Linked DNA regions of Homo sapiens. The protein of the gene in region 6 interacts with the protein of the main gene of each other region in a pairwise test. Each region holds a gene or a part of one and is shown on either strand. Other genes may lie near its edges.

Region 1 (4,080 bases), on a different chromosome or scaffold from region 6:
TTTGTGGGTGTCCTAGGAGGCTGGAGTTTGTGGGAAGTCCTAGCTTTAGAGGATCAAGGAACTAAGGGAAGATTGGGAGAGCAGCAGGGTTGGGGTGCACTGGGGGATCACCTGGTGGCTACGTCGAACCTCTCGTTGACCGTGCTGACCCTCCAGCCTCTGGCTGCCTGCTTCTTCCGCTCAGTCTCCCAGTCTTCCGCTGTCTCCATGAGAGGAATTGGTGGTTTTCTGGAGCCAGAACCCTGGCCTAGAACAGGAGTGAGACATAGAGGAGGAAGGAGAAAATCAGAGACAGCTTCTCAGCTCTTTGTCATCAGCCATCCTCTGCTTTTTCAGACTCTTCCTTACCCTAAAGCACTCTCACTCACCAGCCTTGCTCAGGGTTATCCCCGAATACTGTTGGGCTTGATTGCTCTGAGCTCTGGCTTGGACAATGGCCATGGTCACCTGCAGAGGAAAGGACATTCCATCCTTTTGGCTTAGGCTGAGTAAGTGAAAAGAAGGAAATGGAGCCCATGTGTTGCTCCACTCTCTTTGCCAAGAATGAAGAAGAACAGTGAAGACAGTCCCTAGAGAAGGGGGCTTCCTCAGGTCATGGGGACTGGGGTCGGGAGAACAAATCTGGAACCACAGAATCCTAGAATGATGATTCTGGGAGGAATCCTGGTTTTTCAGAGGAGGAAACTTGCCCACAGTCACACTGCTGGTAATTAATAGAGTAAGGCTAGAGCGCAGGCTCTTTACTCTCATCACGCAATCATTTATCCCAGCCTTTTAGCCTTTCCTTGAGAGAAGCAGGGGGAATGATGAGAGGATCCCAGGGGCTGGAGGAGTCTCAGAAATTGTCAGGGAGAGGATCCCAAGGTTCTGAGGTGAGGAGAAAGCCTCAGGTTAGGGGCCTCTTACCTGAAAAGCCTGAGGCTCTAGGCCTCCAGCCTCAAAACCAACTCTGAGCAGCCGGAAGTCTCGGCCATGAATCAGAATCTCCTCAGGGATAAATTTATGCAGGGACCCTGGACGGAGGAGCTGGACTCGGGACAAGCCGCTCACTGAAGTCAAGAGGTACAGAACAGTGTAACCATGGACCAGAGTCTCTCCAGAAGGGACTCTTGCAGCCCATCCCACTCCATCCCTGCTGTTTTCTGAGAACAGAGGAAGGATGAGGAGGGAGTTCCAACAACCCCAGTGAACCCCTTCACCAAACCCCCCCCCAACTTACCAGCCTCTAATCGTCCAATGTTGACCAGGGCAAAATCGTATTCACTGTTCAAGGGAGTGTCCTAGACGAAACACGTGACTGGGTAGACATCTGAAATCGCCCTCATTTTCCTACCCTGGCAGCCCCAACCCCTTCTAGGGGGCAACAACCCTAGAGAGAGTTCCCACTGATTATCAATGATACATTCAAAAGACAGCCCTTAACCCATAATGTTTGTCTAAATCCTGCTAGACTCCCCTACCCATTTCCCACTAGCTGTCATTTCTGTGGCCCCAACCATCTCACCTGATTCCACTGCCATCCACAGGGCTGGAAGGTGACCCTAAAGTTGGTACAGATCAGGGTTCCAGACAATTCTGGTTCCAGGCCCTTCCTCACCCCTGGGGCCCATGCTAGGATCTGCTCCCCTAAAGGGGAAGAAGGGAAGCCCTGTTATGACTGTTCCCAGTGTTGCCCACACTTGGATACACCCACCCCTCCAAGAAAGGGAGATCTAAATAGGGAAGATTAAAATCCTCCCCAAAGCCCACTACAATGTAAGCTTATGAGGAAAGATAAATGTTTTTTAATTTCTGTAACTAGAACAGAGCCTAGAACAAGGCCTGGCACATAGCAGGCACTAACTATGTATCGAATAAGTAAATTTGAAAAGGGGTAACAGGGTCAAGGAAACAGAAGGAATGTCAAGGTCCAGCTCTCAGCCAGCTCTAGAGGCTGTCAGGGAGGACAGCGAGCCTCAGGCAGACGTACTTCGAGCCACGAGAGGAACACAGGGGTATCTTTGGTGAGGGCATGAAACAAGATTGGCGTAGGATGAAATTTGGAAGTCTTTGGAGAGTGATAGGGCATTATTACCTGGGAGGCATCTGGAGGCCAGGCAACTGCTAGGCTGACGACTCCTGGGCTCCGGCATCCTATTTTCCTGGACAGACTTTGGTCCAGAGGGTTGAGGGGGGTCTAGAGTTAACCCCTAGGCTCCCCAACTCCCCAGAGGCAGCTGCCTGTAGAGGCCTACACTCACACTCTCGGGGGAAACTGAGATCAGTGTCTGTGGGGAGCTCCAGACCTAACAGGGCTGGTAAACAGTAAAGGGAGGGGCTGGTTAATGGATAATGAGACAACGAACTTGAGACTGAGAAAGACGGACCAGGCTCCATCAGCAGAAGCTGATAGACAGACACACCCTCCTCCTCCTCCTCTAGAGCCTTTGCTTCCCCCTTTTATCTCCACCTCATCCCCGTTCTCACCCTCTTGCCGACACCCCCCAAATTCCTTCTCCTTACCCCCATCTCTGGCTCCTCCTTCTGGGGGGCAATGTTGAAACTCTGGCCCCGGCCCCCCCACCACATTTCTCTGGCTCCATCCGGGGACACAGCAGTTAAGGGTGGGAAACCTCAAGGATGCTCACCCACCTCGGGGAGAGGCTGAGTCTTGTTGAGAAGAGGGGTGTTAGGGAGAGGGGTAGGGGGTTGGACACAAGGGAAAGGAGCATTTGACGTGCACGGAGCAGAGTTTGGGGGTCCTTGGAAAGGTGTGTCCAGCCCAGCCTGAGAAGTCTCCTCGGAAACTTCAGTCGACTCTGGAGAGGGCGGGAGAGATGCCCAACCCCTTAAAGGAGAATACACACAATTCTGGAAAAGTGGAGAGGAAACGGTGGAGTCTGAGACGGACGGGTGGGGAAGAAATGGGGACTGAGAGAAAAACGACTCCCTTCTTTACCCCAATCCCAGACCCTGTTCTCTTCCTGTTCATGAGTACTGGAGACCGTTTGAGGGGAGCAGTTCTATTGATTATGAAGCTGGAATCATCTGGGCTACCTGTCTGGAGTGTCTCAGTGATGACTTCCCTTAAAAGCTCCGTTCTTTTGTCTTCTCAAAGGGGTTTGGGGCGGGGAGAGGGGTAGGAATGTGAAAGTGGTTCAAGCCTCCTTGCCGCCTCTTCCAGAAGAAAATGAAAATTAGACCTGGGGGGATTTTTGTCAGCAGAGGCCCAAGAATTAGGTGAGGAAGCAGGGAAACTGGTTAAAGTGGTTTTGCATATCTTTCTCTAGAGGGCATGACACAGACATCATGTGAAGACTGCAGTGGAGAAGTATAAAAAGAGATGGAAATGTGTCCAAGATGCAGACACAAGTACAGTTTGTGTGCAAGTCTTGGGGATGTGGGTGGGACAAAAAGATCTTACCAGTTAATCTTGCCCATCACGTAGATACACAACCAATAGGCAATAAGTGCCCATTCCCGTATGTGACTCCACCCCTCCAACCCAGACACCAGATCTCCAAATGAATGATTCATGTTCAGGACTTTCACAGGTGAGGGCTGGAAACCTCTCTTCAGCTCAGCAGTCCATCCCCCGTCCCTCCCATCTGCAACCCTAGAAGCAAAGATGGGTAAGGAAAGCTGGGAACAAGGAGAGAAGGAGCTGCAGCTCCTTTAAAGGAGGGGGACTTGGGGACAGCAAAGCAAAAATCTTTATTTAGACATGAAAAAGACAGAAAATAAAATACAAAATAAGAGTTAATGAGCTGCTGTTTTATTGCTTTTGAATCTACAGAGGCAGCAATCCTTAGATGGGGGCCCCAGTTTTCCAAAGTGACACTCAATTTTCCCCTCCCCCCAGTACACCACCCTTCTGGCCTCAGCTTTCAGTTTCCTGTCTTGGCTGCAACTGTGGAAATAGTGAAGATATTGTGAGACAGAAAGTCAGTCTGGAACAAAGAGGTATACACCTGCTAAGAAGGTGGCCCAGAAGCCTGATTCTAGAAGTCCTAAAGGCTACAGAGCACCACCACCCCACCTGCCCCTAATGCATTCCATGGGCCTCAACCTCTTGGGGGAAGAAAATATTTCCCAAGGTCT
Region 2 (3,500 bases), on a different chromosome or scaffold from region 6:
TCAAAGAATAAAACAACCCCTTACCCTGGGAATAAGCTATACTTTCATAAAAGACTAATAGTTTTTTCCTCCCTAGGTACTGATAGCTATGGATTCCCTGAAAGACTTTAAGAGTAAACCACTTGCTTCCTTTACTTAACTAACCATTAAAAATTCCTCCTTTGAAATATATATATTTATATATTTTTAATATATTTTAATATATATTTAATATATATCGTAAGATTTATTTCTACTGCCCAGAAACTTAAATTGACTAAGAGTTTCTTCATCAGATAAATAAAAACTGCCCTACAGATACTAAAAATGAGGTAACATGGGTGAGGGTATGTGGCATCATAGGAGGGCATGAGTTAACACTCTTGCAGATAAAATGGAATATTGGCTTATTTACCAGTGCTGCTTCCCAGCCCCACTGCCTGTATCTTGGATCGTGAGTGAATCGCCATAGGTACCAATAGGTTTCAATTACTTCTGGACGGAGGATATAATACTTTTCAGCCTGCCGGACAGCCACAGCCTCCACTGCACCATCAAACTTGAATGATTCAGGACCTAGCTTTAATGCTGTAACATGACAAAAGAAATAACTGAGCAAAATAAACCATTTATGTTTGTTTGCAAGGACTTCTTTCTTCCCTGAAAGAACAGAATATGAAGTAATTTTTGTTGTTTATTTTTATTGTTGCTGTTTGCACTCAGTGCAAAATGAGTCATTTTAAAAGATCCACATTTGGTTTTCTTAAAATAGACTTATAAACATTCCTGTTATTCTAACATAAAATGTTTCTCAGAATAATGTGTATCAACATACTGCTAAATCTAATTCTACCAAAAAGAGTCTAGTAATCTTTTGGAAACAAATGCAAACTAGACATTTGCACATCATACAGTCCATTGTGGTCTAAAATAAAAGTATATAGATAATGACACTGTGTGGATGTTTTTTTTAAAGGCAAGGTAATTTTAAAGACATTTTGCCATAATACACACATATAAGGAAACATTTTAGAGCTTAGATTATGAATTGATTTAGTTGTAGATAATTACAGTATATATTTAGCTGGAATAACTACTAAGGAAAAATGAATGGATATTTTAAAATATGGTGGCCAAAAATTATAGCACAGCTATAAGAAAACACAGCAGAGGATATAATAACCTGCTGGAAAGTTAGCAAAACTAGGATTGTACTTTTTAATTAAAGGATCTAAATTGAGATTAAAGACAAGTAAAAACAACAGAAGACTTGAAAATACAGGACACAAATCAAATAATCATTTTTTGGTTTACCATAACAAAGAGGGTCATGGGTTCATCAACTTGCAATGTGAAAATGACAATCAGAACAAGAATCAGCATCAGCAATGTCATTATGAAACATTAAAATCAGAAATATAAGGAAATCCTTTCAAACTCTGGTACACTATGAATTTCTGAAAGGCAGGGAATGTATCTTGTTCATACTTTAACCTATAAGCATCTAGCATAATACTTGGCATATAATGGCTGTTCCCTGTTTCATGGAGTAAATATTTAATTATAGTAACTATGATATACCATATTTTAGAATGTATGCTATATGAAATTCAATTATTTTAGGTCTATTATTTGATTTTTGGTCAAAATCTGCAAAATAACAATCCTTATTCTCATGGATCCTAATATAAAATTGAATATCCATCCTGGTCCTCAATGTTTTACTAATTTTAGCTATATTTTAAGGCATAATTGGCATTCTGTATCAACACGATAATTTAATTTAGCCTCTATTTTGAACTCAGATCGCTGCCATTATATGTATTATACAACAACACTTAAACTACCCTAAAATAACACTACTTCACCGTCCTCTTGACTTATATTCTTTCAAGAAATGGAACCCTTATTTAGTTAATGAGAACTGAAGAATCAATTTTGCCATAAGTTTAATTCCTTACTGTATAAAAATAACTTGACAGATTTATGAACTAGCATAAATTTTAGGTCAATCATATTTGTTTCATGGTATCTGATGATAAATTAACCCTAAAACAGAAATTGTTATTTAATAAAATCAACAATTCAACTTCCGAAATCAAATAGAAATTTCTAGTTTTTTGGCTTTCAGGGAGCTCATTATCTATTACTTCATATAGAAACTCATGTTTTTAAAGCCAGAGAAAACCTTGGAAGGTCTAGTCCAGTGTTTTTCAGCCCCCTTTTCATTACTGCACCCCTAAGAAACCTTTTGTCTTTTTTAAAAAAGCCTAATTGCCTTCTCCCTCCATAAAATTTTAATACCAAATATATACTGTGTATCTATTTATGACTATATGTATATCTGTGCTTTATACATAAAAAGAGTAAAAATTTTCTCAGCCCCAACCAAAACAATTTTTGTCACCATTTAGGAATCATCTCCTTTTCCAAGTAAGGACACTGAAGTTCAGAAAATATTTGCCCAGTGCAATGTCAGAGGATCTTTTTAGTTAAAGCCATAAACAATTCCAAAAACTACTGGTGAACTAATTGAAAAACTACTAGTTAGCCAGATACCAATAAAGATAAATATTGTTATCTTTTGGTTATTCTTCTTATCACAAGAGGATAGGCAAGGCAATATAACTGAAGTCAGTCAATTTTATGTTCTTTTAAGTAACTGTTTTTATAGAAGCTGAAATGGCAAAAATAGATTCTTATATTAAAAGTTATTCCATATATTCCCAAATACCCCACGATTCTTGTCTTTAAAACAATTACTTCAAAATCTTTAACAGAAACAGCAGCAGAATTCAGAATTTAAAAAATAATGCAGAGACACATTTCCAGAATTAAAATTCAAGTTCTTAAGAAAATGATTTGCCTTGTTGGTGTAAACTATTTGGAAGTAAAAAGTGCCTATATATTCTCCTTCTTATTGCTGAACACATTTTTAACTTAGAGATTATTTTAGACTATATAATTAGCCTTATTAATATTCTTACCAGTTCTGTCATATGACTCATGACAAGTACGTGCAATTTCTGCCCCTAGCTCTAAATAATGACCAGCTTTATCTGCTCTGGAACCATCTGCTCCTAGTGCAAACATTCCCCCAGCAAAGCAGGCCAAATGCCCCATCTTTTTTTCCAAGTGCCCATTCTTCCATTCTCCAATAAAGGTAAGACCTCCACGAGACTTCTTAATAAGATGTTTTTCTATAGCCTACAGGAAAGAAAAGATATTCAAAATTTTAGATGCAAACTATTAGTGTTCAAACTTACTATATCCTTCTGGCCATTATAAAACCTGGGTAATATGATAGTCTATAAAGTAGTAACTTTCCCAAACTGAGACTTAATTAACAGCAAGTGTCGGAGTGGGTGATCAAATTGCATATAATCTGGAACCAATATCTGAATCACTACCATAATAAGACAGAGTGGAAGAGGAGAGACTTGGCCTAAAGATTACCTTCTACATAATATTATCTTTAGTCCCTTACTTCTCAAATTTAGGCATTTGTTTTGGATGCTTTG
Region 3 (3,500 bases), on a different chromosome or scaffold from region 6:
ATATTTATACACATTATCAGACCAGCAGCTTAGGAAGCTTCTGGTGTGGAGGGAACACTTGGCAGGGTAATTTTCTCATGAGTCCTCATATGGCGGTGGTATGTGGATGACTGGCGGTAGCTTGTCTTACAAAAGGGACATGTATAAGGCTTTTCTCCTGTGTGGATTCTCTCATGAGACCGCAGGTTGGTTTTGTGGCTGAAGGACTTTTTACACATGCTGCATGTGAAAGGCTTCTTTCCTGTGTGAATTATCTGATGCACCCGTAGGTCTGATATCTGGAAGAAGCCTTTTTGACACTCGGGACAAACAAATGGCCTCTCATTCCTGTGTCTTCTCTGGTGAGCTAATAAGTGACAGAGATACTTAAAGACCTTGGGGCATTCTTCACATTTGTATGATTTTTGGACTCCATGGGATCCTTTCTGATGTACCTCACATGTGGAATTTCCCTCATTGCTCTGGTGGGTAAGGGCAGACTCAGGGGAGGACTGCTCTGGTTGAGAGATACACCCTGCTCCCATCACCATAGGGACACCTTGGAAAGTGATTCCATTTATGGACCCTTCCTGAGATCTAGCAGTGACTAGCTCTGCTCTTTTTGAGTTGTATGGGTTGTCAGAAGAAACACCTCCCTCTTCAGGCCTAGGACCGTTCTCTTCCTGGATGATGATTAGGGAAACTATTTGATTGCCTTGATTAGTAATATTTTCATTTACTCGAGTAGTTTTCGAAGAACTGTTCCAGCCATCTTGTTCATCTTCATATCCTGTGAAAATAGACACTCAATGAAGTTGTACTTAAGAAGGGGTCCACATAGAACACTCCTCAGTTGTGCAGATTCACCTGACTTACCTTGTCCTGTTTCTAAGGAAGTATCTTGGGAAGTCTGGGAGGGTGTCCCCATGTTTGCTTCTCTTGTGGTTTGGGCATTCACTTGTTTTGTGAGATGAACAATGACATCTCTTAAGGGCATATCCTCAGAAAAGAGAGCTTCCTGTCCCTGCATGTGGACGTGGACCTGTAAAGAAAGCCAGATCACTGTTGTATCTGAATCTGTTGTGTAACAGAAGACTTTTTGGAAAAGTGGTCCTTAACAGGCTCTCACAAGCTCCCTCAAGTATTGGCTATCACATATTTTGTCCACCATCTCTGATGGTGTTATTCTTGTTACTACAAGCTCTTATGTTTAATAAAGTCACATGGACATTGAATTTACAAGTACTGAATCATTTCCCCTAGGAAAAATTCAGGGTTAGTTTCCTGTGAGCTTCTGGCTACATTATTTTTGTCAACTGATCAATACATGAGTTTGTTTTATGTGTGTATATGTTCAAAGACACCCCATTTAATATATATTATTGATTAATCCTGAACTCAGAGGATCCAACACATGTATTATCTCCATAATACATAGCAACTTTCCTGCACTTAGGAAGACTAGACAGTGTTTCAGCATTTTACTTCAGTGTCACTTTAAACAACAAAGTTATCAATAAAAAGCAAAAAAAAAAATGTGCCACTAAATAGACTGTGAAAAGGACACTTATTTACACTGTAGGAACCAAAATAGGAAGTGAGGTTGTGGCCTTGTTCAACCTCACCTGGAAACATGCACCTAAGGTAAATCAAATATTTTACCACCTGCACATATCTGAAAATGACGGAGAAGATGCCTCAGGTATTTATTTTAAGCTTACAAATAAATTTTAGCAATTTTGCAAATATGGGCTCTGAGAATAAGGATCTACCGTAATTGCTTCTTTAGAATGTCTTTCTTGATTAGAGTTCCCTGACAGAAGAACAAGCTCTTGTCAAGACATTTCTTCCTCAACCTTGATGTCTTCATTTAAATGTCAATTTCAGGCTGGTCTCACACCTGTAATCCTAGCACTTTGGGAGGCCAAGGCAGGCGGATCACTTGAGGCCAGGAGTTCGAGACCGCCTGGCCAACATGGTGGAACGCTGTCTCTATTAAAAATACAAAAATTAGCCGGCCTTGGTGGAGCACGCCTGTAATCCCAGCTACTCTGGAGGCTGAGCCACGAGAATGACTTGTGCCTGGGAGGCATAGGTTGCAGTGAGCTGATATCATGCCAAAAAGTCAATTTCTCAGAGTCTGCCATTATGCAGACTAAAATTAAGTTAATCAAACATCAATATGTTTGGCTCCTATATGTCCTACAGAATAAACAGATATATACCTTTTTGCTTTTTTTCTTGAGAACTTAGGACATTGAAGATTATTCTTTGTGAGAATGGTGGGAGAGTGTGAGCTGACTAATAACTGGACCTCCAATAGCTTCTCTAACTTCCAGACAACTCTAACTGACTGTGATTTATTCCTTACTTTCCTTTGTCTCTCATCCCAGAAGTTAGAACCCTGTACTCACTAAGGCAGGTGGATTTATGCTGTCATCAGTCAGGTCTTCTATGAATCTCTCCAAGTTTTTGCCACTTGATTTCCATTTCTCTTTCACACTGGCTTTGTCATTGCAGTGGCCACCAATCATAAACTGCTCCAGGACTAATAGAGAAATAATTTCATCCTTGCTGTGCTTTTCTGGTTGCAGCCATGAGTGAAAGATCCTATAAAGTCTTTGCAATTCCTGCCTTGCATATGAATTATTGCTGTCTTGAAATGAATTGAGCACCATTCTTGAGAACTCAGAAATCCCTTCTTCTCTCTGAACAGCAGGTCCTTGGCTTTGTTGAAACGCTGAATTTTCTGATCCAAGATTATTCTCGGATGGTTCACACTGAAATATGGTTCTTAGATCTAAAGCCATTCTTAGCAATAATTCTCAGAGAGACTTTACTTTGATGATTCAGTCTCTTGCCTTGTGTCTCTAGGGATTTGTTTCAACAGTTGGTGGATTCTTTAAAACTGCAAGCTAGAAATAGAAAAGAGATGAGTAATTAATTGCACCACTGGCATAATTAAAGACAAATCAACCAAAAAGTTAGGCCTACATGGCTCTATGGATGAATTCAAAGAAATAATTATAACTTAACATAAACTCTCCCAGAGCATATAAGAGGAAGCACTACCCACTTTAGTTACTGAGGTCAGCACTTCCTGATAACAAAATTTTACAAATACATTAAAATTATCCAAAACAAAATATTTGAAAATAAAATCTACTCACATATACATCGCAAATGGTGTTCATTTCCAAAATGCAGGAAGTTTGGGTTAAAATTCAAAAATCAATGCAATTTACTTCGTTAACGGGATATGGATACAAGAACATAATAAAATCATCTCAATGAATGCATTTAAAATGTTTAAATGCCAATGTTTATTCCTGAAAAAGGCACTTAATAAACTAGAACTATTAGGAAATATCCTTGGCTGGGCACAGTGGCTCACTCCTATAATCCCAGAACTGTGGGAGGCCGAGGAGGGCGGATCACTTGAGGTCAGGAGTTCGAGACTAGCCTGGCCAACATGGTGAGGCACCATCTCTACTAAAAATACAAAACTTGCCGGGTGTGGT
Region 4 (3,500 bases), on a different chromosome or scaffold from region 6:
TAGATGAATCAGAGGGCCCCTGAAAACATCCAGAAAAGAGGTAAACAGGATTATTTGACATGTTTAGGTACATGGGATTGACAAAATGATGTTAAATCTTCTTTAGGTTATATTTTTGTGAATAATATATTCCAAAATTGTATGGGATTTCTCAAATTCTAATGTCTAAGTATATGTTACCAATCACAATTATAATTATGTTAAGTTATTGTAAACCACAAAAATGACCAAATTTTCTTGTATAAAGCTACTAACCCACGTAAAACAACAACAACAAAAAATTAATTACATATCAAGAAAAGACTTTCATGTTAAACCAGCTAATACTGAAATTGTTTAAAATAGTTTATAACCTGTCGCTTTGCAGATGCCGTCACTGCCACCAGGAGCCCTGTACTATCAGCCATGGTCAACCCCACCGTGTTCTTTGACATCGCAGTCACGGCGAGCCCTTGGGTCACGTCTCCTTTGAGCTGTTTGCAGACAAGATTCCAAAAACAGCAGAAAACTTTCATGCTCTGAGCACTGGAGAGGAAGGATTTGGTTATAAGGGTTCCTGCTTTCACATAATTATTCCAGGATTTATGTGTCAGGGTGGTGACTTCATATGCCATAATGGCACTGGTGGCAAGTCCATCTATGGGGAGAAATTTGATGATGAGAACTTCATCCTAAGGCATACACGTCCTGGCATCTTGTCCATGGCAAATGCTGGATCCAATACAAACGGTTCCCAGTTTTTCATCTGCACTGACAAGACTGAGTGGTGGATGGCAAGCATGTGGTCTTTGGCAAGGTGAAAGAAGGCATGAATATTGTGGAGGCCACGGAGCGCTTTGGGTCCAGGAATGGCAAGACCAGGAAGAAGATCACCATTGCTGACTGTGGACAACTCTAATAAGTTTGACTTGTGTTTTATCTTAACCACCAGACCATTCCTTCTGTAGCTCAGGACAGCACCCTCCACCCCATTTGCTCGCAGTATCCTAGAATCTTTGTGCTCTCGCTGCAGTTCCCTTCCATGCCTAGCTGGACTGCAGAGTTGAGTTAAAGTTTATGATTATGAAATAAAAACTAAATAACAACAAAAAATTGTTTATAACCAATGCTTGATCCCATATTCCTAGGAAAACAATTAAAGCTTCAGGTATATTTGGTCTTCTGGTCAGCCATTTAAACATTTTATAAAGGGATTTCATTCCATTGTTATTTTCCATGCATGTTTTCTGGTTGTAGAAAAGCTTTCCCATGCAAGAGGGCTGATGTTATAACAGTAGATTATTATGCTACAGTGTATTTTCACCAGATTAAAAAAAAAAGCTTTTTATGGTTTGAATCTGCTGGAAACATCAGAGAAAGACTGTCCTTGCCATCTACACTATAACAAAACTTCAGGACCTTGAACTTTGGGTTCATAATCTCACAACTGAGAAGGGCCCCTCCATGCTCTTGGAGCTGTGCACCCACTGGAATGCTTAAGGTAAAACTAACTAGGGAAATTTCTCCCAAGAAGAAGATGACATCATTGATGTGAACAGCTTTTCCCAAGTTCACAGATTAAGACTTCTACTATCATGAAACTCTTATTTTTGAATATTTTTTCTTGCTTATGCCTTCTACGAACAATAGAAGTGGAAAAGGGGTCTGTTATGTGCACTTATGGGGAACATTTTTATTTGTGAAGGAGTTTGCAGCCAGCCTTATACATGGATAAAGGCCCAATGTATGTAAGAAACTTTAATGGTAGATGTGTTAGCTCATAATCAATCAAAAACAAAAAATTGATTCACTCCACATAACCCACATCGTGGGTTAAAGAGAACATTGCCAGAAGTCCTTCACTCTTCTGAAAGGGCATCATTTGTTAGGTCCTTTTTCCATGGTTTAAAGTAAAAGAAGCAATGATTAGAAATGTATCCCTCATGATAGGTTCCATAGCAAATTCTACTCTAAAGGCTACAGACTCTAAATTCTCTTGTGAAAGTTATAATAGAATTGGCTAAACAGCGAAGTATCTGTGCAGCTGCTGGCACTTGTGGCCTATACAGAAATACATCAAATGAAGACTATAGAAATTCAGTGGTAGGAGACTGACAAAGAAATTGATTAGTCAAGTCTCTCTCTGTTGCCCAGGCTGAAGTGCAGTGGCGTGATCTTGGCTCACTGCAACCTCCGACTCCCAGGTTCAAGCAATCCTCCTGCCTTGGCCTCCCAAGTAGCTGGGATTACAGGTGCACGTGACCACACCCAGCCAATTTTTGTATTTTAGTAGAGATGGGGTTTCACCACGTTGGCCAGGCTCATCTTGAACTCCTGACCTCAAGTGAGCCACCTCACCCAGCCGTGAGTAAACTGTATCTAGCTCATTCTTAGATCCATTTGATTTTAGGAGGTTTGGTTTATGGGGACCTTGGGTAAGGAGTATACTCCCAAATTCTTGGTATTATCCTCCTAATAGCCATAATAATGGTCTCCCTGACGAGCTGTATGCTCTCAAAGGTTTTAAATGCTTGCATGAGCCATCTCTAGAATGTCATATGGTCTCTCTTCAACTGGAATAACAGGAGCTCAAAGAAATATGCAACCATGAGGACACCATAACCTATAAATGACATGCTGAGACCAGAAACCCAAAATGATGGTAACTGAGAGTGGCACTGAGGCCCTAGGTTTTGGTCACACTCTCACCTAAGTGAAAACCTGATCAAAAAGGGAATTTTTTTCAACAAAATTCTGGGAGGCCGTTGTTTTGGACTGATCTCATGCACTAGGCCCCAACAAACCAAACAAAACCAAAATGGGGCCACTCATGCCAAGACTTTAAGGAAACACATAGATTCTAGAAAAGACTAGGTTTTGTTTTTTCTTCTGCAAATCACTACAACAAACATTTCTGACAGTATAGGTATCCACCCCCTAAAGTTTCCATTAAATCTTTTAACCAAATTCATTTCCTCTCACCTAGAGACCATCAAGCTTCAGATGATCATGTAACAAAGGTTCCAGCCAGTTCCAAGTGAAGACACCACCCCTGGACATCAAGAAGCTACCCTTCCTCCACTAGATAGAGCAGGGTGAGAGTTCCATGATCCCCAATAGGTAGGGACTATGCCCCAAGCCAGCATGAAGCAGTTACAGAAAAAAGACCATCGGTCCCTCTGCCTCCCATAAAGATTTATGGGGATCACATCTCTTGAAGGGGCAGATGAGGCAGGAAAATAGGGTCTGAAGTGTGAAGATCGATTCACACTTCAGCTATAACAGGAAATATCCTCTCCATAGGGTGTATGACTATGTAACTTGAATACTTCATCCTCTCCATTTACATAAGGTGTATCTGAAGTAACCAATGGAATCCTCTGGGGGTAAATGCCCCACAATTCTGTAACGGGACCTTTGAGCCCCTACGCTCCGCCTGCTCCCACACTGTGGTGTGTATGTTCATTTTCAATAAATCCCTTCATTCCTTCCTTACTTTGTCTGTGCATTTTGTCCAATTC
Region 5 (3,500 bases), on a different chromosome or scaffold from region 6:
TTTGCTCAGAGGCAGGACTTATGATTCTTCACTTCCTAGGTTTCCTCTCTTCCAGAGGATCGTCAGTCCCAGCTGCTGGAGGCTCTTTCATTCTCTTGCTGTCATAGTCGTAGTGAATGTTAAACTTCTTTAGGGACACTGGGCCCCTTGGAGAATTGGAGAATGTGTCCTGGCCCAAGGTTGGCAAAGAGGAGCTGACCCTGCCAGCCAGTGTTTGGAATGATCTCTGCACTCGTTGACAGACACGCACCTGGGGCCACGCCATATGCCCTCTCCTCCCTGCAGGCACACAAGAGGAGCAGTCCCGCGGGGGCCACGCACGCCCCCTTCTCTCCTATGCCAGCATCCGTTCCCTCTAGTCAGGGTGGGAAGTGGGAGGGACCAGCCGCAGGGGGCGTCCCCATCCACCTTTCAACCGGAGAGACGGCAGAGCGTGACCTCGGGGAAGCACGTCCCACGTTCCATACATGTGGAAGGAGCTCTGTGTTTCTGATCTACCCGAGGGTCCTGGACTGTTCTGAGCGTGTCTTCTCAGGATCAGGAACACACATCAGCCCTCTGCGATGTGGAAGATGAGGCTCACCGATGTTTGTTTGTTAGCTCACACATTTTAAATTTCAGGATTTGCCAGACTGTTGGTGTGAAAGCAGGAGCCCCAGACGAAGCTGTGTGCGGAGAGAATGTTTCCCAGATTTACTGTGCGCTGCTGGGCTGCATGGACGACTACACCACGGACAGCAGAGGGGACGTGGGCACCTGGTACGTACGTAGCAGTGGGTGAGCGCTTCTTCTGAGAAGCCCATCTATTCCGTGGAAACTCGGAGGCCCCGGGCTTTTCTGCAGGGAGAAATCTTTGTAGATTTGTGCCGTGTTTTGCGTTTTAAAGGCTCTGGGGAAGATGACCTGTTCTCTGCTCCCGGGTGAGCCTGCGTGGCAGGGCTTTGCAGGTGCTTGTCCAGCCCGTCCTCAGGTGTTGGGCCTGTGTCGTCCTCGTTGACAGGGTGTGAGGGAGGACGCGTCTTCAATGAAAGGCTGCCGGCTGCTTACATTGGGTTTTGCCAACATTTCTTGCTGTAGTGGGATTGATAACCCCTGAAACGCCTGTGTGTGTAGGATGCCTCGGGGCCCCGGTGTGTGTGGCTGTGGGTGGCTCCCTGCACACGTCCCTGTAGCGCACAGGGAACCTCTGCAGGCCCCGTGACTCCCTGGCAGCGTGCCTGGGCTCTGTGTGGGGTTAGTCACGGGTGTCGAATTCACACAGGCTGCCGGCGTGGTGGGCAGAACCAGGGTTGGAACCCCCCTCTCAAGCTGGGTGTCTCTGCCTCTCCTTGTCCCATCAGGGTCCGCAAGGCCGCCATGACCAGTCTGATGGATCTGACACTTCTGCTGGCTCGGAGCCAGCCTGAGCTGATCGAGGCCCATACGTGAGTGTCACGTCGCAGCTCTTCTGCATCCTAGAGGGCAGCCCCGAGCTTGGGGAGGCTGGCGGGGCGGGCGGTCCTGGTGCTCAGTGGCATTTGCACTGCTGGGCACACACCCTCCTCCCAGAGAGCCTCTCTGGTCCCTGACCCCAGGTTTGTGCAGGCCCCTCCTCCTGCCCCCATAGCCATGGCGTGAGCTGGGGCCCATCCTCCTCTGCCCAGTGCCCCCAGGACGAGGCTCTGCTCCCCAGCCTGGGCCTCCAACGGTGCTCTGGCCAGTTTGATGACAGCCAGCTTCCCGGGGTAGGGCCGGGCAGGAGGTGGGGACTTCTCAGCTTAGGACCCTGAACCTGGGGGTCTGCTCCTGCCAGGACCAGCTGAGCCATCACTCAGTTCCCTGCACCTGAGGCTGCCATTGGGGCCTGCCCTTGCTGTGTGTCTCTGTCGGGGGCACGGGGTTGTGGGTACCCCCAGGCCCTGCCCTTTCTGTCGGTCTCTCTGTCGGGGGCACTGAGTCATGGAGGTCCAGGCCCTGCCCTTGCGGATCTCTGTCAGGGGCACTCAGTCAGGGGGTCCAGGCCCTGCCCTTGCGGGTCTCTGTCGGGGGCACTGAGTCATGGGGGTCCAGGCCCTGCCCTTGCTGTCAGTCTCTCTGTCAGGGACACTCGGCCGTGGGGATCCCAGGGCCTGATTTCCTTAGTTCTCACCTCTTTCTCTTTCCCCCTCCCCATCTCTTCCCCAGCCCCAGCTTCTCTCTCCCCATCCCCGGCCTCTCTGTCCCCATCACTCTTCTCCACCCGCTCCTGTAATCCTATTTGTTGTCCCTGCTTCAACCCTAAGACCTCATCAGCACGCATGTAACACGTAGCACATGTGTAACAAGTACGTAGCATGTATTTGCTGCGCACCTGTAGGGTTGGGCTCCTGGGATGTGAAGGTAACGGAGTGTGGTTCTTCCGAGCCAGTGTCCTGGTGTCAGCTGCCAACTCAGCCACCATGTCCCGAGGAGCCCGCATGTCCTCGTGGTGCTTGGGCTGGAGTCACGGCTCGGACCGCCTGTGCTCAGTTTACCGCCCGCTCTTAATTTACCGCCCGCCCTTGGTTTACCTCCTGCTCTCGGTTTGCAGCTGTGAGCGCATCATGTGCTGTGTGGCCCAGCAGGCCAGTGAGAAGATTGACCGTTTCCGTGCTCACGCCGCCAGCGTGTTCCTGACGCTCCTGCACTTTGACAGCCCTCCCATCCCCCACGTGCCCCACCGAGGAGAACTGGAAAAGCTGTTTCCCAGGTACTGTCGGGGTGTAGGCCCCCCGTGCTGGCCCCGCAGCCATGGCGAGATCATTGGCAGCCCGGCCTTGTCTCACTCACTCTCTTGCAGGTCCGATGTGGCCTCCGTGAACTGGAGTGCACCTTCCCAGGCCTTCCCACGCATCACCCAGCTCCTTGGGCTGCCCACCTACCGCTACCACGTCCTGCTGGGGCTAGTCGTGTCCCTGGGCGGCTTGACGGAGTCGACGGTGAGGAGGCGTCGGGCTGGCTGGGGCAGGAGGTGGCTCCAGGAGTGCCTGGTGCTTCCCTGTCTCTTGGGAGCATGTATGGAGCTGGGCCTTTTCTTCCATTGCTTTCTATCTCTCTCGGGCATATTTGGTTAGGGGGTCAGGGGCCCAGTGTCTTCCTCATGACCCAGGAGGCTTAGGGCCTGTGGGATGGTTGAGTCTGATGAAGGTGGGACAGGGCCAGCGCCACTCTCTTCCTGCGGCCGCAGCCTTGGAGCTCCCAGCGTCCCCTCGGGGTTCAATCCTCCAGGACCTGTGTCTGATGCCTGCATGTGGGTACCTGGGCTCCATCAGGTTCTAGATCGGCCTCCGCCCTCCACTTTCAGGGCTCCAGGCCCAGCTTCTCATGTCTGTGGGGAGGGTCTCCAGAGCCTTGGTCTGTGGCTGAGCTGTGGAACTTGAAGGCCTCTCTGCATCTTGTCACTCGTGGCCCCTGCACCTTGGGTCATGACCTGCTTTATGTGGCAACCCTGTGACAGCTGCTAAGTCCTAGAAAACACGTAACAGGACGTGAGGTGCCCTCTG
Region 6 (3,500 bases):
ATAAACAGACAATTACAATAACAATGACATTAACCCCGAAGTCTGCCATCTGCCTTTGACACCATACATCTATCTCTTTCTTAACAAACAATAATTTTCAGTTATATGGACAGAAAATAAACTAAGAAGGGTAAATAAAAGGTTTTAAACTAAAACTGCTACAGGTGAGGGTGGCAGAGAAACAAATAATTTCTTCCCCTTTTCTAAGCTATTGTATACGTATGCTGCCTTATGACACCAGAGAACAAACATTCAACATCACCATCAAACAGTGACATGGATCATAAACCATTAAATTCCCCTTAATGTATTCATATTCCACAACTATGCAGGAAAAAAAAAGATTATGTGCCTCATGAATAGTCTGAAGTGAGGAGTTGACACAGCGAATGTGTATGGCTTCTTTGTCAATGACCCTTCATCAAAATGTTAACGATGTTCAAGTAAACACTCACTTCTTTATGAAGAAGAATTTGAATCATCTCTGTGACTTCAGTTTTAATGTAAAATATCTACGGTATATTCCTAACACTGATAAAAATATAATGCCTCCTATCCATCTGAATGTAGAGACTTCTATTTCTTCATGGCCTGTAGATCTGAGGCACCAAGAGAAAAGAAAGGATACATTTCCCTTTATCATAACAACTATCTTGATAATATATTTTTACCATCTGGGTAAAATCAAAGCCAGTGGATGTTTGCAAAGAAAACTGATAGTTTCATCCTAGTTGTTATTTGACCTGACTGGCTCCGTTGCCTTAAATGTGCACTGATCATATTTTTAAATACTTTCACTCACAACACAGCTATCCCTAATTACTTAATTCCACTTCCACATCTCAACTGCTGCTTGTAAATATGACAGTGCGCTTACAGACACTCATGCCTATCTTATGCCACTTTTAAACACCATGCTATCTTTACATCTCAGTGTCACACGGGGGGAGACAGCGGAAGGAGTTACAGGGCACATGGGCATGCAAAGCAGAGCTGGAAAAAAAACACTTCTGTCTTTTTAAAAAAAGTCATGTGGTTTTGATATAATATGAATATTTTATATAAAAAAGAAATTACACTCCTGAAATAACCTCCAGCCAAATGGAGTAAAATCATCATGTACCACAACAACAGTCTTGCATGGCTTCCACCAGAACTGTGCCAGGTAAAGTGTGTCTGAGGACTGGGGACCCTTCACCAACTGTTGGGTACGAGTCTGTGAAGAAATTAGTACTTAGAAACTTTTCACAGCAATTTGACAGAGTTTCTAGTTTACACTTGTTTAAATAATTTTTAAAATTGGGCTTATATTTTCTAAGTCTTTTTAAAATTTCATTTGCCTAGTAATTTGTCTGTACTATAAAAGTGTTCGTTTGAAGGACTGGAAATTAAAAAAATAAAAACTGATCCCTCACCACACATAACTTGGAAAGCACTGAAGTCAATTATTGAAGTGGATGTGTGAATGAAAAGAAAATGGGAATGCAGCCTTCAATGTATCTAAAATGGATGGCTAAAAAATGAGATTTCAAAGGCAAAACTTAAGCTTTATGATAAATAGGAACTCAGCAAACTTGTTTAACATTAACATTTTTATTATTCCTAAAATATTTACTTTAAATATGGATAGCTAACTAGATATAAAATCTACTTTTTCTATTAAAAAAACACAAGTAAGAAAAACCTCTGTAACTTAAATATTACCTTAAATTAATATAATCGTTACCCATCTTTCCTTCTGGAAATTCACACCTAAATTATGATAAAATGAAATATATTTACCATATGTAAAACACTCACACTATCATTCCTAAAAGAATCTTACAGAACATGAAAAACTAAAGGCCAGGTATGGTGGCTCATGCCTGTAATCCCAGCACTTTGGGAGGACGAGGCAGGTGGATCATGAGGTCAAGAGATCGAGACCATCCTGGCCAACATGGTGAAACCCCGTCTCTACTAAAAATACAAAAAGTAGCTGGGCATGGTGGCACGTGCCTGTAGTCCCAGCTACTCAGGAGGCTGAGGCAGGAGAATCGCTTGAACTGGGGAGGTGACGGTTGCAGTGAGCAGAGACTGCGCCACTGCACACCGGCCTGCCAACAGAGCAAGACAAAAAAACAAAAGACATGAAAAACTAAAATGTCAAATAGTTCTTTAAAATTAGGCTTTTGAATATTCAAAAGGAAAACCAGGTACATTTTACAAGATATTTCTTACAAGTTGTTAAATTTTACAACTACATTATTCAGGAAGACAGAAATGATTTATTAATGAACATTTTTCCATTTGGATATATTTTGGATGCTTAATGTAATTCAAATCTTTGAAACACAAAATGGAATCCAGTCATTTTTGTTATAAGCTTAGACATTATTGACTTTTTTTTTTAAGTAAGCGAAAAGAGTCAAAATGAACCAGGGAAGAAGGGTGGAAAGCAACTCGCTCCAGGATTTAGGGGAAACGCATCAGATTTGCCAAGCATGTGGAACCTTCTAATACCTTCTCAGCCAGGGCCTCAGTCCCTGAATGGGCTGTGGGAGGCATCCACACACAGGTAGATGTTAAGTTCTGGGAGCTTGAAGGATCACTTAGCTAAGACTGAGGTAGGCTGGGCATAAATCACTTATTGGATACTGTTTTAAGGTTAAGTGAACCTGCCTACGTAGACAGGACCATCTCTTCACTGGACATGGGCAATTTCCCTGAGCTAATGTGCCAGCGCTTTGGTTTCCTGGGATGAGGCAGATGGCCAAAGAGAGAAAGCTCTCCTAAAACTGTGTTCTTGTGTGAAATGCCACAGAAACACTCAATCTAAGAGAATCACAGTGAAACCCTGTTATAGCCAGTGTGAAGGAACAAAGACAAACACCAGGCTTCTCCAAGAGGAGGAGGAAATATATACATATTTCTTACACACATATATATAATATACATACACACACACACACACACAGGGGTGTGAAGGGTTTTAGAAAGATACTTTCCTATACAATCATGCACTGTGTAATCATGTTTTGCTTGAGGGACCAATATAAGACAGTGGTCCCCCAAGATTATGATACTGTACTTTTGCTGTACCTCTTCTATGTTTAGATCTGTTCATATACATTCAATACCATTGTGGTTAGGATTGCCTACAGTATTTAGTACAGTAGCATGCTGTGCAGGTTAGTAGCCTAGGAGCAATAGGCTACACCATATAGCCTAACGGTGTAGCAGGCTCATGGTTTGTGTAAGTACACTCCAGGGTGTTCACACAAGGAAGAAATTACTTACTGATGCATTTCTCAGAATGTATTTCCATCATTAAGTGATACCTGTCTGTACTTAAAACCATTTTTAAAAATAACTGCCTGGAATGATTTCCAGCAACTCTTTCATTGGCTGTTTTCAGACCTAGACATGAGATATCTTCTACTTACCTGAACTTGAACAAAGTAGCAGCCAAAAACCCTGCCTTAGTTCAGTTTAGTACAGTTCAGTTCAGTTGTTTGGGG
Region 7 (3,500 bases), on a different chromosome or scaffold from region 6:
TGTTAATTTTAAAACTTTAATTGCATTTTTTACTGAAATCAATTGCTTTTAAAAAATCTACGTATGATGTGAGGGCGATCTGGCTGCAACATCTGTCACCCCATTGATCACCAGGGTTGATTCGGCTGATCTGGCTGGCTAGGCAGGTGTCCCCTTCCTCCCTCACCACTCCATGTGCATCCCTCTCAAAGCTATGCACTCGGTCAAAGAGGATGACCATTCCTGATAGAGGAGAACCGGTCTTTGGTCAAGGTTATATGAGCAGCTGCGCTCCCCTGCTAGAACCTCCAAACAAAAAATCTACGTAAAACATAACAAAGCAAAACATGGAATAGTGTTGGCAGCATGTAAGTATTACAGTATCAGCTTCTAGAAGACTAATCTTGGAGCTAAGAATCACTCTAAATATTCAACTCAATGGGGGTCTTAGTACAGCAGATTCAATGATGAATATAACATTTTGGCCCAAAGTATTACTGAGATGAATAAAACCGATGTTTATTTGTCTAAGTCTATGCCTCTCCCAATTGTAAAATTTCAAGAAAAATGAGCAGGAGGTAATTCAGAAGCACAATTCCAAGTGAAAACTTCTCACTTCCAACATCAATGAAAGGAGGCATGAACAGAAGAAAAGTTGTGGTTACAATATTGCTGAAGTGTTAGGTGTAAATCTTTGTGTATGACTTTCATGGACAATCTAGACAGAAATGTTATGCCACAAGAGAAGTAAACTCAAGATACTTTCACGGCTGGGCGCAGTGGCTCATGCCTGTAATCCCAGCACTTTGAGAGGCCAAAGTGGGTGGATCACTTGAGCCCAGGAGTTCAAGACCAGCCTGTGCAAACATGGTGAAACCCCATCTTTATAAACCCCGTCTTTATATATAAATTTATATTTATAAATCCCATCTTTATATATGTAAAGCTTTTAAAATACAAAGCTTAGCTGGGAGTGGTTGTGCCTGCCTATATATAGTCCCAGCTACTCAGGAGGCTGAGGTAGAGGACTGACTGAGCCTGAGGGTGGACGATGCAGTGAGTTGTGTTCACGCCCCTGCACTCCAGCCTAGGTTAACAGAATGAGACCCTGTCTCCAAAAAAAAAAAAAAATGCTTTCACAATATTCTACTTATTTATTATGCTCTGTGGTTTACATATGCAAATGACAGTACAACAAAGAGACTAGCTCTAGTTACTCAGAGACTAGAGTGTTGTTCTGTGGACAAAATCAACGCATTTGTATGTTAAATTCAGTTTTTCAAGACTTGCAAGTTTTTTTTCAAATTTCAAATGTAGTGTGCTTCATCTCAAATATTACTGAAAGAAAATATAAAGTTACATTAACATAAAAACTCAAAAATTTGAAGTCTTCCTGTATACTAAGTTAAACACAATTTTGATTTAAACAAATTCTATTTATGAAAAATAGTCACTAGGCACAATGGCTCATGCCTGTAATCCCAACACTTTGGGAGGCCAAAGCGGGAAGATTGTTTGAGACCAGTCTGGGCAATGTAGCAAAATCTCATTTCTACAAAAAATTTTAAAAAGTTAGCTGGGTGTGGTGGTGCACATCTGTAGTCCCAGCTACTCCGCAGGCTGAGGTGGGAGGATCATTTGAGCCCAGGAGATCAAGGCTGCAGTTGAGCTCCAGCCTGGGTGGCTGCAAGAGAGTCTGTCTCAAAAAAAAAAAAAAAAAAAAAACAAAAGAAAAGAAAAGAAAAAGAAAAGAAAGAAAAAAGAAAGGAAAAAAAGGAAAGGAAAGGAGAAAGAAAAGAAAGTCAGTCATGTTTACTTGTTTTGCATGTTTGTTTTTTAGACTTTTAATTTTTTTTTTTTTTTTTTTTTTGAGACTGAGTCTCGCTCTGTCACCCAGGCTGGAGTGCAATGGTGCGATCTTAGCTCACTACAACCTCCGCCTCCTGGGTTTAAGCGATTCTCCTGCCTCAGCCTCCTGAGTAGCTGGGATTACAGGCACGTGCCACCACGCCCAGCTATAGACTTTTAATTTTTTAGAGAAGTTTTAGGTACACAGCAAATTTTAGCAGAAGTGCATTGTTCCCATATATCTACTGTGTGTGCTTTTACATTTTGGCTAGAAGAACTGCCAGGAAAGAGAGGGGTAAGTGTAAAGTGAAGGACATTAATCTCCACAGCCCTTGGCAAAGAAGGAAAGAACTCTGTCCTAAGTCACTCTACATTCTACCACTACCAGGGGCCTAAAAATGGCAGGTGGATAGAATTAACAGAGAGTATTGAACTTCTGGTAATTAGCTGGCTAAGGGGCCTGGAAAGAAATTTATGTGCCAGAAAAGAGAAATATTACTCCTCAGTATGAGGTTCTGGTATTGATAATCATGTTCTTGTTTTTTGAGACAGGGTCTCCCGCTGTGGCCAGGCTGGAGTGCAGTAGTACAATCATAGCTCACAGAAGCCTCTAACACCCAGGCTCAAGCAATACTCCCACCTCAGTCCCCCAAATAGCTAGGAGTATAGGCACATGCCAGCATGCCCAGTTAATTTTTATTTAATTTTTTTGTTCAGACAAGGTCTCACTATATTGTCCAGGCTGGTCTCCAACTCCTGGCTTCAAGCAATCCTCCTGCCTCAACCTCCCAACGTGCTGGGATGACAGGTATAGGCCACTGTATCCAGCTGATTTTTTTTTTTTTTTTTTTACTGCTACATTTACTTTATGGCTCTGCAAATAAGCTTAGGTGAAGATGGTAAGTATTTACAGAATGGCCAGGTTTGCAGGATGCAGCATGCGTGTAAAAACCTAAGATGCAATAAACATATGAAAAGAGTCAGCTCACTAGTAATCAAAGAAATGCAAAATAAAATAATGAGAAACCATTTCACAACCATCAGACTGGCAAAGGTTTCAAGTCTCTTATTAAGTGGTGAAAGGCAATGTAGAAACAAGCTGTTAATGATGAGATACAACCAGAACGAACCAGTAGTAGAGTAGAAAATATGTATGCTCCAATCCAGGGCTTCCGCTTCTAGATATACACCATGGAGAGATACACACTGGGGCTAGAGAAGTAATATATAGCAATATATGACATGGAAATTGCCTATTATAAAAACTTTAAATAGACCAAAAAAAGGCAAAAAATTAGGAAATGGCTGAATGTCTATCAACAGGGGAATGGATAAACTTGCACAATCATACAAAAGAACACAATTCAGCAGTTGAAGAACCAAAGCTACAAATAAATCCAAAAGCTGCCCTCCCCTGGGAAAAAAAAAACCACCCCCACAAAGTTTAATTTTTTCTCACAGAGCTGCAAAAGGATACATGAAGCACAGTATTTACGTAAGTTTTAAAAGCACATCAAGGCAATACATATGAATGATTAAGTAGCTAAAAGTATGGAACTATCAATGAATATCAATTTCAGGTGACTACTGTGAACTTTACCTGAGCTCTGTGTTCTCAGAAAGCAGTGATGGTTAATCCACCCCACCGTTTTGTGTTCTGGGAAACAGGTAAC

The links.
Region 1: the proteins of SMAD9 (region 6) and MTMR11 interact in a two-hybrid assay, tested with the Homo sapiens proteins (one large-scale study listed by BioGRID and IntAct).
Region 2: the proteins of SMAD9 (region 6) and MAN1A2 interact in a two-hybrid assay, tested with the Homo sapiens proteins (one large-scale study listed by BioGRID and IntAct).
Region 3: the proteins of SMAD9 (region 6) and ZSCAN4 interact in a two-hybrid assay, tested with the Homo sapiens proteins (one large-scale study listed by BioGRID and IntAct).
Region 4: the proteins of SMAD9 (region 6) and CYP11A1 interact in a two-hybrid assay, tested with the Homo sapiens proteins (one large-scale study listed by BioGRID and IntAct).
Region 5: the proteins of SMAD9 (region 6) and TBCD interact in a two-hybrid assay, tested with the Homo sapiens proteins (one large-scale study listed by BioGRID and IntAct).
Region 7: the proteins of SMAD9 (region 6) and DSTN interact in a two-hybrid assay, tested with the Homo sapiens proteins (one large-scale study listed by BioGRID and IntAct).

Annotation. Positions count from the first base shown.
Region 1 is NC_000001.11:149,934,080-149,938,159, forward strand, and holds the start of MTMR11 (myotubularin-related protein 11), read right to left. Parts: upstream 2,801-4,080; 5' UTR 2,583-2,800; coding exon of another isoform or gene 2,569-2,582; coding exon 2,503-2,568; exon of another isoform or gene 2,151-2,502; coding exon 2,075-2,150; intron 1,627-2,074; coding exon 1,505-1,626; intron 1,281-1,504; coding exon 1,220-1,280; intron 1,050-1,219; coding exon 907-1,049; intron 448-906; coding exon 369-447; intron 248-368; coding exon 112-247; intron 1-111.
Region 2 is NC_000001.11:117,496,449-117,499,948, reverse strand, and holds part of MAN1A2 (mannosyl-oligosaccharide 1,2-alpha-mannosidase IB), read right to left. Parts: intron 3,187-3,500; coding exon 2,967-3,186; intron 568-2,966; coding exon 395-567; intron 1-394. UniProt on the Homo sapiens protein: Involved in the maturation of Asn-linked oligosaccharides. Progressively trim alpha-1,2-linked mannose residues from Man(9)GlcNAc(2) to produce Man(5)GlcNAc(2).
Region 3 is NC_000019.10:57,675,435-57,678,934, reverse strand, and holds part of ZSCAN4 (zinc finger and SCAN domain-containing protein 4), read right to left. Parts: intron 2,895-3,500; 5' UTR 2,790-2,894; coding exon 2,394-2,789; intron 1,022-2,393; coding exon 856-1,021; intron 770-855; coding exon 30-769; 3' UTR 1-29. UniProt on the Homo sapiens protein: Embryonic stem (ES) cell-specific transcription factor required to regulate ES cell pluripotency. Binds telomeres and plays a key role in genomic stability in ES cells by regulating telomere elongation.
Region 4 is NC_000015.10:74,361,147-74,364,646, forward strand, and holds part of CYP11A1 (cholesterol side-chain cleavage enzyme, mitochondrial isoform a precursor), read right to left. Parts: intron 896-3,500; exon of another isoform or gene 406-895; intron 1-405. UniProt on the Homo sapiens protein: A cytochrome P450 monooxygenase that catalyzes the side-chain hydroxylation and cleavage of cholesterol to pregnenolone, the precursor of most steroid hormones.
Region 5 is NC_000017.11:82,926,565-82,930,064, forward strand, and holds part of TBCD (tubulin-specific chaperone D), read left to right. Parts: intron 1-621; coding exon 622-759; intron 760-1,340; coding exon 1,341-1,424; intron 1,425-2,548; coding exon 2,549-2,707; intron 2,708-2,797; coding exon 2,798-2,936; intron 2,937-3,500.
Region 6 is NC_000013.11:36,875,239-36,878,738, forward strand, and holds part of SMAD9 (mothers against decapentaplegic homolog 9), read right to left. Parts: intron 1-3,500. UniProt on the Homo sapiens protein: Transcriptional modulator activated by BMP (bone morphogenetic proteins) type 1 receptor kinase. SMAD9 is a receptor-regulated SMAD (R-SMAD).
Region 7 is NC_000020.11:17,573,075-17,576,574, reverse strand, and holds part of DSTN (destrin), read right to left. Parts: intron 1-3,500. UniProt on the Homo sapiens protein: Actin-depolymerizing protein. Severs actin filaments (F-actin) and binds to actin monomers (G-actin). Acts in a pH-independent manner.